3 separate regions of the Homo sapiens genome follow, and all the other regions are linked to region 3. Evidence: fine-mapped expression QTL. A gene starts in region 3. Each other region holds a variant in brackets. All regions are shown on one strand. Distances are from middle to middle.

Region 1 (4,238 bases), 37 kb after region 3:
CTTCTGACTGCAAGACCAAACTGTTGACTGCTAGCCTGTTTTCCCCTTGACTAACTGTGTGTCTTGGGGCCTCTTTCTGGGCATCAGTTTCCCAGTCTCAGTAAAGCGTTCTGAATTTTCCTTGCTGGGGTGGTGAAAGGCTTGGTTGAGAGCCTGTGTGAACCTCACGGTGCCATATTAACAGTCGCGAGAATGTAATTGATTCTATGATGTTGTGGTTCACTGGAAACTTGGCAGGGGTGGAGTAGGACCCTGAAGAAAGCTGGCACTATGTCAAGTGGCCAACGGGAGCTCAGCCCTTCCTGTTCTCTCTGAGTATTTGTAGCTCTTTAGTATTTCCTGTGCTCAGCCCCATTCAGAGATCACCAAGTCAAACACCTAAAATCCAGGGTCCCTGTGTTTGAGGAAGTTTGCATTCTAAGATATTTCTTCCCAGGCTGGTACCCTAGAATGTCATCGTTCCATAGGCTGCCTTTGTCATCATTTATGAAATTTGTCAACTCTTGGTCCAGAGGTCTGATTAGGAGGAAAAGAAGAAAGTCATGTGAGGCCAGGTGCAGTGGCTCATGCCTGTAATCCTAGCACTTTGGGAGGCCAAGGCGGGCAGATCACCTGAGGTCAGGAGTTCAAGACCAACCTGGCCAACATAGTGAAACCCCATCTCTACTAAAAATACAAAAATTAGTGGAGCGTGGTGGCAGGTGCCTGTAATCCCAGCTACTTGGGAGACTGAGGCAGGAGAATCGCTGAAGCTGAGGTGTGGCAGCTTCAGCATTTGGCTCCATTATTCCCTCAGGCATGAAATCTTCCTCTCTAGCCTTGTTTAAATCTCAACACTTCCCTTTCCAAATGATTTCTAAGGGGAAACATAAAAAGAATGTTCCAGAATACTCTGTTGGCCCAGGGGTGATTTGCCAGAGCAGTTTCCTGGATTACGGCCTCTTCCCCCATCAGCAAATCATGTGAAACAAACTACTGTCAGCTGTAAACCCTGAATGTGGGAAAAAGAGCTGACACACAGGGCCCACTTTCGTAAAGCTGACATTTCTCATGAATAGCGAATTCCTGAGTGTGGGCAGTAGACCAAGGCCAGGAATTCTCATTAGCTGGTGATAATCAGGCATGACTTGGACTGTGGAAGGCAGCTGGGCGGAGAGGTCATAGGTATGGGCAGGGGTGAGCCACAGCTGATAGCTGGGCGCGATCTGCCTGGATTGTTACTGAAATACTAACATGCTCTTTATGGGTTAGTAACTCCCTTCACCTCCCCAACGGCTCCTACCCGCTGGGACCTTCACCTCCCCATGATCCAACAGTGAAAGATTTAATACCCACATGACAAGGGCCTTCCAGACATGGTCCAGCTGGGGTCTGATGCTGATTTGGATAGATCCATGGCAAACTGGTGAGTAAATATGTTAAATGCCTCTCCTGGCTGTGGGACGACAGTTCCCTCCTTGGGCCCCAGCCTCCTTCCTGCTTCTGAGACCACGGCCTCTGATCTCACCTCTTTAGAGCTGAAGGACATCTAGGACATGAGCTCAGCTGATTGTTTCCCATTCAGTGGCTCAATCCCACCCCTTTCACATTCAACCTCCCTGAAGTCAGCATTCACTGTTTTTTTGTTTGTTTGGCCTTTTTTTTTTTTAAATCCTTATCTCTGTAGCATTTCCTCACTTTCCTAAACAGAGTTAGTCACTTCCTTCTGTGTGTTCTCATAATACTTACAAGCCATATCTCTATGATCCAATTTTATGAACACTGTTATTTTCTTTTTCATACGTATGAAAGATTGTGAATATTTCTTTTCCTTTTTTTTGCTTTGGCTTCTGGGAAGCTCAGAGCCCAATTTGTAGTTTCCCTCAATTAAGCAATCGATGTAGGCTTTGTGAATTCACTTTGTCTCTGGCTTCATGTTAAGTTCAGCCTTTCTTTCCTCCATTTCTTTATTAATATATATTTGTATTATATTCATCTCTGTGATTCATCTCAAATGCTAAAATTATTTTTTGCATTGTCTTATTAATTAATTAATT[T/A]ATTTATTTATTTGAGACGGAGTCTTGCTCTGTCGCCCAGGCTGGATTGCAGTGGCGCGATCTCGGCTCACTGCAACCTCCGCCTCCTGGGTTCAAGTGATTCCCCTGCCTCAGCCTTCCGAGCAGCTGGGACTACAGGCATGTGCCACCACGCCCAGCTAATTTTTTGTATTTTTTAGTAGAGACGGGGTTTCACCATGTTGGCCAGGATGATCTCCATCTCCTGACCTCATGATCCACCATTCTCGGCCTCCCAAAGTGTTGGGATTACAGGCGTGAGCCACTGCACCCGGCCCTTGCATCGTCTTCTTTAATGAAGTATAATTTTCAAAAATAAAATGCATCAATTTCACATATACAGTTTGATGTGTGTACCCATGTAACCACCACCATAATGCCATAGGATACATTTCTATCACTTCAAATTTCCCTTGTATCCTTTCTCAGTCAATTCACCACCCTACCCTGATCTCAGGTGCCACTAATCTGTTTTCGGCTACTACATATTAGATTTACCTGCTTCTACAGTTTCATAGAAATGGAAGCCTACGTATGTGATCTTTGGAGATGCATCCAAAGACATGGATGCATTATGCCAAGTGATATTTTTGAGATGCACCCATGTTTTTGTGTATACTAGCATCTTTTGAGATGCACTCATGTTTTTGTGTATATTCGCATCTTCTGAGATGCATCCATGTGTTTGTGTATACCAGCAAATGGTTCCTTTTTATTTCTGAGTAACATTCCACTGTATGGAGACATCACAATTTGCTTCTCCATTCACCTGCTGATGGACATGTGAATGATTTCCAGTTCTGGGCTGTTTTGAGTAAGTAAAATCAGGAGAGTGTAGCAGGTGTTGGGCAAACAACAAACATGTCTGCTAGTGTGAAATTCACCGGCAATGCCTTAGCATGGTGTCTAGCACACAGGGGTGCCTAAGAAATGGATAGTCGGGTTGATTTTAACAGCTCCCTGGGTCGGGGAGACAGGGTTGGACCTTGAATCACAGAAACATGAATTTCAGTCCCAGCTGTGCCATTTCCAGCTGTATGATCTTGAGTAAGCCACTGAACTTTTCTAAACCTCAGTTTCCCCCAATTCTGTAGAAGGGGACTAATTGTTCCCAAATGAACACAACTGTCAGTGAAAGCACTTTGCAAAGGATTAAGACAAATATTAGGCAAAACTACTGTGACCATGGAATTTCAAAAGACTAGAATTTCTCTTCAGATCTTGAATTCTCTGCTCTTCCTTACTGCTACCCTCAATGGCTGATGAGGACTCCCACATTTTAGGGAAGAATTGAGATCACGTCCAAGCTCCTACTTGGACTTCATCCTCACCTCCTTCTGAGCCTCCCATGGCCAAATGCAGTGATTCCCCAACTCCCCTGTACCCCGCCCTGCCCTTAGCACATTTCTAGACCCTGGAACTTTGGGTGAAATCCCATTTATCACACCGATCTCCCTTGGCCACCTCCTAGCACTGTGTCACAGTGTCAGCAGGGCTGTTCACTTCTCTGCCCTTGCTCTCTATCACTCATGAGTCAAAGTTCTCCGAGCACATTCCGTGTTGGTGGCCCCCTGTGAAGGGTTTCACCAAACACCACTGTGGGCTGGGCGCTGGCTTCCATCCACTGACCCAGTGCAGCTCCTGGCTTCTGACTTCTTTCTGTTCCTCTCTGGACTTATTTTCTCCCACTCCTTCCTGTGACTGTTTAATATACCAAGATGTTCCCTGTCTTGATGCTATCACTTGACTCCACTGGCTTTGGCTTTTTACTGTACTTCCTTTTTTTTCCCTTCATTTGTAATGCATTCATCCACCTGCATCAACGTGGCTTTGTTCTCCACCACTTCTCAGCAATAACTGACCTCCCAAAGGCCAAGCACCCCAGCATGGCTAGGTCTTCTCTTCCTGATGCTCCTCATGGCTTCCATATTTTCCCTGAGACTCCTTGGGGCCCCCAAGTCACCTCCCCTCCCTTCTCTTCCTCCAGCCATTTCTTTTCATCTTCTTTAGCTGTCACCTCATCTTCAATGCTGGGCTCTGTCACCCAGGCTGGAGTGCAGTGGCATGATCATGGCTCACTGCAGCCTTGACTTCCCGGGCTCAAGCGATTCTCCTACTTCAGCCTCCTGAGTAGCTGGGACCCCAAGCACACATCAACACACCTGGCTAATTTTTTATTTTTTG
Region 2 (4,238 bases), 180 kb after region 3:
CTCTGCAGAATGTAAATTTTCCCCACAACGGGTGGCTTTGCAGGGTCATTTCAAAATATGTCCAAGAAATATATTTGGAGGTAAAATACTTTCATTTCCTTTAGGGACTGTTATCTGTCACGTGATGTTATATCAGAGTCTCAGGCTTCCCCGACCCACTTCTCTTTGACACCGGCAGAAATCTAATATCTGTATCAGGGTCCACATAGACCAATGGCATCCAGCCCTGATGTCAGGCCATCTTTAGCCTCCACTGATCACCTGCCCACATTCTGCACATCAGCCTCACTCAACTTTCTGTTTTTCTTGCAGCCCAGGCTGTTTGGCACCTCTGGGACTTTGCACGTGCTCTTTCCACTTCCTGGTTCATTCTCCCCCTGCCTTGGCATCTGACTGAATCTTCCTCCTTTGTCAGGCCTCAGCTTAGATGTCACTGCTCTGAACCTGCCCCCAGTCCCCTGGTCTGAGTTAGGTGCAGCTTGTCCTCCCACAGGAGCTGGCCCACACCTGCCACCTGACTCCTGAATGCACCAGCAACCCCTGCTGGGGCTCCAACTGCTATTCAGACGGTGCGCCTTAGGCCGGAAGGACCAGGTCTGTCTTGTGAACAATTGTATCCTCAGTGACTGGCCCCAGGCATAGGAGGTGCTTCATGTAATACTTATTGAATGAGTCAAAAAGGTGAATTAAAGAATGTTGTCATCAAGTTCATAAGTCAGCCTCAGATTACTGGTTCTGACAGTCTTGGTAATGCTTTTTAAGTTGAGGTTTCTTTAAGCTGATTGTTGAAAACGGTTTACTCATCACAGGAGTTTATTCATTTACTGGTCCAAAAAGGATAAAATCATACAAATGGCTTTGTATCCTTTTGCTATTACAATACAGAAATTCGTAGCATGGATTTTGGAGCCAGACTGTCTGCATGTGAGTTCCAACTCTGTCACTGAGAAGCTGCGTGACTTTGGGCAAACTATTTTTCTGTGCCTCAGTTTCCTCATCTTTAAGATAAGATTCTAATAAAACTTATCTAATGATGTTGTGAGGATTAAATTCGTCTGTATTTGACTAATCCCTAAACACATAGAAGCACTATATAAAATGTGTTAAATAAAGTAAATCAGGAATAAATCTCATAAACAGTGTGGTAGTCTCTTAGAAGTTAACTTCCTTTTGGAATAAAGCATTGGCATGGTTCTAGCACAAGGCAACTTCAAGGACAAAAGTGAAGTTCATTTTCAGTGTGTGCCCACCCTCTATTTCTATCCCGTTTTACTTTCTGTGGTGTTTTGTCTTGCAAAGTGTTATCTTCCTCTTCACCATCTCACAACAAATGCTTTTGGATCTGCCAAAAAGGCCAATTCATACTCTAATGTAAATGACTGATAGACTCTAATGTGCTTCTCCAAAATTATTGTCTTAACATGAAGTGTCCTGATTAGTCTGGGGAATTCAGGAGGGCAGAAACCACATACTATACATGTCAATATCCTCCTTGACCCTGGCTCTCTACACCTCTAAGTGCGGCAGACATTGGCCAGCCCTATTATCAAGTCTCCCGGGAAACAGTCAGGAGTGTGAGGGTTAGACCCATTGAACAGAATGCTGAGAACCTTGGAGACACATTGGGAAGAGAGGGGAAGAAGTGCCACCAGCACTGAATAACAACGGTTGAGTTTAAAATACAAAATCAGAATCCTGGTCAGCTTACACTGGCACTCCAAGACTATGGAGCCCTCAGATGCCACATGACCCAACCTCAAAGGAGAGCTGCGGTTTCAGACTCAGGGTGACAGCAGCCAATGATTTAGAAAGCAGAGCTCAGCGTGGGACCCATGGCAGGAGGCTGCTTGGAGTCTGTAAATGATGCCATTGTTTGAGGTTACATGCAATCAAAGAAGGAAAAACTCAGGGGTAGGCTTTGGGCTGGGGGAGCAGGGAAAAAAGAAAAACAAACCACTTAAAATTTTAGGGACATCTCCTGCCAAAAGCTTTTTTTTTTTTTTTTCAAATAAAAAAAAAAAACACCCCGATCTGAAGCCAATGAAGCAAACAGGAAAGCAGCGTCTGGGCCTGCTCTGAGGGCAGATGGCAGCCTCTTGGGTTTCAGAATGAGTTGATCATTGCGTAAACAAGGTGGCCTCTGGGCGGGGGCAGCCTGCTCTGTAAGAGCTCTTCCCCAA[G/C]GGGCACTTGGGCCCTTTAGTGTCCACATTCTTCAAGCCTGGCAGTGCCCTGCCCTGGAGTCCCTTCAAGTTCAATGTTGCTTGGCAACTTACAATGTGCTATTACGACCGTGTCTGTTATTCCCCATGATGATCCTGTGAACGTGGTGTGGATTAGTAGATCCATCTTATGGAAAGGGGTACCCTGGGTTTCAGAAAGGTAGCCTTGCTAGCTCAAGGTCAGGTGGAGAGGAAATGGCAGAGCCAAGCACAGGACACAGGCCTCTGTTTTGCCGTTTAGCTAGGCAAGTGCAACAGGAAGGAAGGGGGAGGCATGCGTGACCCTGGGGAGGGCTGAGAGCCTTAACCATAACATCACCTTGGGGTTTGTTGAGTGTCCTTGAGTAAGCACGGGCTCTGGAACAAAAGAGCATGAACTCAAGCCCCAGATCCAGATCCTCCTAGCAGGAAAGTTTCTGAGATTTCTTGGGAAACTTAACCTTGGGAAAGTTTCTGAGATTTCTGAGCCTTGGGTTCCTCATCTGTGAAATGGGGATAGTAGTAGGACCTGCCTTATAAAGATGCGGTGGGAATTCAATGAGCTAAAGCCTATGAAATGTTTAGAGCCACTTCTGGCACACCCTGAGTGTTAGCTCTTATTGCAACATCCTTTCATGTAAACTCATTTAGGGTTTTATATTTATGCTGAGAAGGATTTATTTTTGTTTTTATTTTACAGATGATGAAACAGGACACAGAGAGGTTATTTTTCCCAAATCCAGTAAAGACGCAGAGCTGGAGGTTGAACCAGGGCTTCCGATGCCAATTCTGGATTGCTCCTGGCTGTGCCATGTTGGTTCTGTATGCCAAAATTCTTGGACTTTCTTGCTATTGTTGACCCCCAGTGTCTTGCTAGATGCTGCCTGGGACCGACACTGAGCAGAATCATGACAGGAGTGTCCGTGTCCCTAGGCTTCCCTTTTTGCCCAATTGCCCTATATTGGTGGAGGCTCCAACCTGCCCTGCAAGATGCTGGGTGCTCTTCTGCATCTGACTTATTCTTCCGCTCTGATTTATGTGAACTTATTTCCAAGACGTGGTAATTAATCACCGCCTCAGCAAGGGGGATCTGGGGGGGCTGACAAAGCACTGGAGCCCCTATAGGATTCCACAAACATTGGGATAATCAATATTCCTATTGATATATTTATTCTGGATTCCCTGTGTACTTACTGGGTACTTGTTCTGAGTGCTCCTCCTGTGCCAGCTGCTGGGGATGCAATGGTGAGTCCAAGCAGACATAGCCCAGGAGCTCCTAACGTTTGGAGTCCAGCAGGGAAGACTGATAGTAATCAGAGTCACGGTCATGAATGTGCAGCTACACACTGAGATAAGTTATCTGAAGGAAGCAAATCCAGCTTTGGGGAAACTGAGTAATAAAGAAAAAAATGATCTCAACTTGGGAGTCAGGGAAGGCTTCCTCAAGCCACTTAAAAGTGATGTCTGAGTTGCGTTCTGAAAGGCAGTGACAGTGAGCTAGTGAAGTGAGGATGGAAGAGCATTCCAGGCAATGGGAACAGCGAGTGCAAAGGCCCTATGGGGGAACTGACATTTTAGTTGGGTGAGCATGCAGAGGGCAAGGGGGAAGGACATGTGAGATGGGGTTAGAGGGGCCAGGGGTCATTTTAGGAGAGCGGGGTTGAATGATAGGGGGCAGGGAATCCACTAGAGAATTCTAATTTGAAGTGGTAGGGATGAGGTATTCATATTATTTAGTTTGTATTTGTAAAAGATCCCTCTGGCTGTTGAGTTGAGACTGGATTGGAAGGAGGTTAGAGTGGTGGCAAAGAGACAAGTCAGAAGGCTATAGATGTGGGCTGGGCAAGAGCTGCCAATACGTGGGACCCAGGTAGAGGTGGTGGTGCTGGACATAGATGGATTTGTGAGCTCTTCAGGAGTTAAAATCGACTGTTTCCTGTTCCAGGTACTATAGGAACTGGAGATACAATGATGAATAGGATATAGAAACCCATCTTCAAGGGGCTTACAGTCTAACAAGAGGGAGGCAGACGTGTAACA
Region 3 (4,238 bases):
TCCCCAAGGCTGGAGTGCAGTGGCACGATCTCGGCTCACTGCAACCTCTGTCTCCCAGGTTCAAGTGATTCTCCCACCTCAGCCTCCCCAGCAGCTGGGATTACAGGCGCGCGCCACCACACCCAGCTAATTTTTGTACTTGTAGTAGAGACGGGGTTTCACCATGTTGGCCAGATTGGTCTTGAACTCCTGACCTCAGGTGATCTGCCCACCTCAGCCTCCCAAAGTGCTGGGATTACAGGCGTGAGCCACCACGCTTGGCCTAACTTCATCCTTCTAAGGCTTCAGTTTCTTCCCTGTGAAATGGGGCAAAAAATAACCCCATAGTGTGGTTGGAAAACTGAAGTAATACATATAAAGTGCTAAGAACAGTGTCCGACACATTGTAGGCCTCGATTCATGTTAGCTATTATTATTATTTTAATTTTCACCTTCTAATTCCCAGCGTTTAGCTCTTGGTAGATGCTTAATTAGTATTTGTTGAATGAATGGAGAATTAATAAGGAAAATGATTTATTCCTGGGGCTCGACCTGGTTTTAGAAAATTAAGTATTTAGCAGAAGGACAAGTAAGGGCTCTCTAATAATAGTTATATTGTTGGGTGCCCAGGGACTCCAAACTGACCTGGTTCACTCAAGAAAGAAAAATGACAGATTCCAAGTTGTTTCACGCGCAACTTTGATGCTCTTCCAAATCACACGGAATGAATGCATGCGCACCACCAGGCAGGGCTGCCCGGGTGCAGGCGGTATCTCTGGCAGTGGCCAGAATGACTTCCACCAGCCTACCCACCTACCCAGGTTGGCACTCAGGCCCTAGACCCTGCGGCGCGTGTGGAGGCTGGGGAGGGAGTAGGAATCCGGCGGCAGCCACGTGGGCCCCTTCCGCCCGCTCCCCACATCCTTTGTTTCCCACCGGCCCTGGCTCAGGAAGCTCTTTCTGCGAGTCACCGCGAAGGGGCGGCCCGGGAGCCTGGAGAAGCTATTTCCGTGCAATCCGGGCGGGCGGCAGGCGCGGGGGGGTTGGGGGGGCGTGGAGGTGGAGGCAGCGCAGAAGGCCCAGTGTTTGCTTTTATTTCCTCCAACAGAAGGTTCTATTTGTGGAAGCGAACAGACGCTGGGGATTAGAGCTGGGAGGGGGCAGGAAAAGGGAAAAAAAAAAGCCACATCCACTACCACGCACAGGTCTTCCCCGGAACTACCGCGTGGGGGTGAATGACTGATTCTGGAATTCATCACCTCCCTATCCCCCTCCTTCCTCCGGCTGCAGCCGGGCCTCGGCGGCGCCCACGGCTCCAACCGGAGCTCCCCAGGCGCTGGGCGGTGGGGGGATCCCCGGGGCGAAAGGCGTCGCCGCGGGGCTGCAGCGAGCGGCGGGTGCAGAGAACCGTGGTGCGCGCTCCCGCCTCGCGCCCGCAGCCCATTGTGCTTACTGTGAATGAGGCGCGCGCACCAATCAGCGGTCGCTTCGCTCCCCGCAGCCCCGTCCCTCCCGCCCACTTCCCCGGGCCCTTACGTCACGGGAACTTTTCCTCCGCCCCCTCCTTCGGCTTCTCCGCTGAGCTGGGGGCCTGCGGGAGGGCGCGCGCGCCGCCTCCTGCCCAGCCCCTCCCAGCCCTGGGGGCGTGTGCGCGCGTCCAGGCCGGCCCGGGACGCACCACCTGCGCCCGAGCGCGCGCTGCCCGGAGCATCCCCAGCCCTAAGTCCACCCCCATTCCCCCCACCTCCTACTCCCTCTCCCCTTCCCCCAGTCTCCTCCCTCCGCTCCGGAGACTGCTCGCTGGGCGGCGGGGCCGGAGTCGTCGCAGCCACCTCATTGCACAACCCGGCTTCCCAACTGTTTACACAGCCCGGCCTGTGAGTGTGTGTGTATACAGCGTGAGTCACCAGGAGGCGGAGGAGGTGGAGGAAAAGGAGAAGGAGGAGTGCACTGGCCGGGATCGGTGCAGCGCTCACACTCACTCACAGTCACTCTCTCTGAGCGCGTCTCGCTCGCTCTCATACACGCCCGGAGCCCAGGAGCGCTCAGGATCCCGAGCGCCGCGAAAAAGTTCCCCCGGCTTTTGCTGGAGACTCATCGCTTTGGGAAGTGCATTTGCTTCGTGGCTCCGCCGAGCCTGCTGAATCCTGTCCTCGCGGCTCGGGACCCCGGGATCGCTGACCGCTGCCGCCGCCGCCTCTGCCTCCCGGACTATCGGCAGCCTCGGCAACAATAGTGGCGGCCGCCCCCAGCGAGGCTCCGGGAGCCCTTGCCTGCGGGGGTCCGGGGACTCGAGCCGGCCTCCGCCTCCCGGACGCACAGCCAGCGTGGTCCCCGCGTGCAACGCGAGCGCCGGGGAGTGGCTCCTGCTTTGCCCCTCGTGGGGGCCGAGCCAAGACCAGTCTGCAAACTCCATCCCGCCGGCTGGAAGAAGTCGCGGAGCCGGCACCAAACCCGCAGCGTCTTCCCGCGCGGATCCCGGGACTTAAAAAGCCGGGGCCACCCCGGCCCAGGACGGGATGCGGGTCGGTCCGGTGCGCTCTGCCATGAGCGGCGCCTCGCAGCCCCGCGGCCCGGCCCTGCTCTTCCCAGCCACCCGAGGCGTCCCGGCCAAACGCCTGCTGGACGCCGACGACGCGGCGGCTGTGGCGGCCAAGTGCCCGCGCCTCTCCGAGTGCTCCAGCCCCCCGGACTACCTCAGCCCCCCCGGCTCGCCCTGCAGCCCGCAGCCCCCGCCTGCCGCTCCGGGGGCCGGCGGAGGCTCCGGGAGCGCGCCGGGGCCCAGCCGCATCGCCGACTACCTGCTGCTGCCCCTAGCCGAGCGCGAGCATGTGTCCCGGGCGCTGTGCATCCACACTGGACGCGAGCTGCGCTGCAAGGTAGGCGCTCCCGGGCCAGGACCCGGCTGGGGTCGGGGGCGCGGGACGGGGTGGTAGGCAAAGGTGCTTGGGGTCCGGCCAACGCTTGGGCTGGGCACAGGGCGGATCAGTAGATTGGGTCAGATAAGACGCCATTTGACCAGGTTCACGTTTTTGTGGATCGAGGGGTTTCCCATGGAGTGATATAATGGGGGCGCCTAGAGGAAGTGCAGTGTTCAGTGGCTTTCTCTATCTGTTCCTTTCCTCAGCGCCCAGTGTAGCGCGTGGCGTTCCATATAAGTTGTGGAATTGAAATGGATTCCAGGGCCATGCCATTCCCCTTCTCTCATTCTCCTCGCTCTCCACCCCCCCTCCCCCGCCAATGTCCTGGAAGGACGCCCTTTAGTGGGTGCCTCCTAGGAGCTTGGAGCAGCTGGCAGCTCTCTTGCCGGGCTTGCACGGCACCCGGGCTCAGTTGTAGGTGGTAAGGGGGCTGGAAGACTGTGTCCGGCTCCTGCCTTGGGGATTCCGAATTGAATCCGCGCTGAGACTAGAACACGCCCTCCCAAGGGAGCAGTCCCAGAGTCATCCACCCGAGGCGGAGGAATCTGCTCGGAGTAGAAATGTTGAAAAGCCCACACCGGCCAGGAACCCTCGCTTCGATTCACTTTATTTTCCAGCCAGCGATTTTCCTTTGAACATAGGGATCCCATCCAGGAGGAGGAGACACAGCTCCTAGAAACAGGATCCGCCGGGTCCTCCTCCTGCGCGGGTAGACGCAGAACGTTCCCACAGTCTACTTTATGCGAGCGTGGCACCCCTGCTTGAGGCACCCCAGAGCACCCTCGGGCCGCTCCTTTTCACCCGAAAGATAGGATCACCCCCCAGTTAAGTCGCTTCTGGGTTTTCCGCAACTCACCTGACACTCCCAACACCCCGACCCCGTCCCGGGGCTCGCTGCTGCCACCTACTGCCCAACCCGAATGAAATTTCAGACGCATGATCAAGCCCAGTTTAATAGGGAGGAAAAAAAAACCTTTTCTTCTCCATGACTGGGGCTAAGAGCTGTTCTGGGACAAGCATGTATGTGTGTGTGGTGGGATGGGATGGGATGGGGTGGGAGGAGGGGGCAGCAGGGGATTTTTCTAGCTGGTGCCAGAGCAGCCAGGCCTCTTAGAGGTGGGGTGAGTCTGGCCATTGTGCAACCCCTTCCAGTTCCTCTGAGCAGATAATAGCTGAATCCAGATGGTGACAGCCCGTGTGTCACCGTTTCCAGTTGAGTCTAGGATATGAGTAACTGGACTGAACAAAAGGCCTTTAAAGAGACCAGCCAGCTTCCTAGAAGAGAGGAGATGCTACTCATTTCTAGGGGTGGGGTCGGGTGTGGGGGGATAAACAAAC

Direction of the effects. Alleles are on the strand shown, and positions count from the first base shown. SD is a standard deviation of normalised expression in the study named. Not every link is listed here.
In carriers of allele C in region 2, the expression in thyroid of the gene that starts at base 1,954 in region 3 tends to be higher than with G alone (small effect, 0.18 SD a copy in GTEx).

Evidence for each region. PIP is the estimated chance that this variant, and not a neighbour inherited with it, causes the effect.
Region 1: its variant is the best candidate, but not a certain one, in a credible set for the expression of TRIB1 in whole blood (INTERVAL, PIP 0.86).
Region 2: its variant is the best candidate, but not a certain one, in a credible set for the expression of TRIB1 in thyroid (GTEx, PIP 0.62).

The regions. Positions count from the first base shown.
Region 1 is chr8:125,465,629-125,469,866 of GRCh38, forward strand. TRIB1AL (TRIB1 associated lncRNA) reads left to right here and starts at 1,177. Exons shown (of 4, transcript NR_186610.1): 1 at 1,177-1,405. The variant T/A (reference allele first, on the strand shown) is at 2,037.
Region 2 is chr8:125,606,005-125,610,242 of GRCh38, forward strand. It overlaps LINC02964 (long intergenic non-protein coding RNA 2964), which reads left to right. Exons shown (of 7, transcript XR_001746072.2): 3 at 2,899-3,443. Among named protein-coding and RNA genes, the nearest start is that of LINC02964, 88 kb to the left of the region's middle. RefSeq lists enhancers at 94-143, 2,017-2,396. The variant G/C (reference allele first, on the strand shown) is at 2,181.
Region 3 is chr8:125,428,405-125,432,642 of GRCh38, forward strand. It overlaps TRIB1 (tribbles pseudokinase 1), which reads left to right and starts at 1,954. Exons shown (of 3, transcript NM_025195.4): 1 at 1,954-2,858. The coding sequence starts at 2,499. RefSeq lists silencers at 1,127-1,746, 2,477-2,816 and enhancers at 2,107-2,156, 3,627-3,716.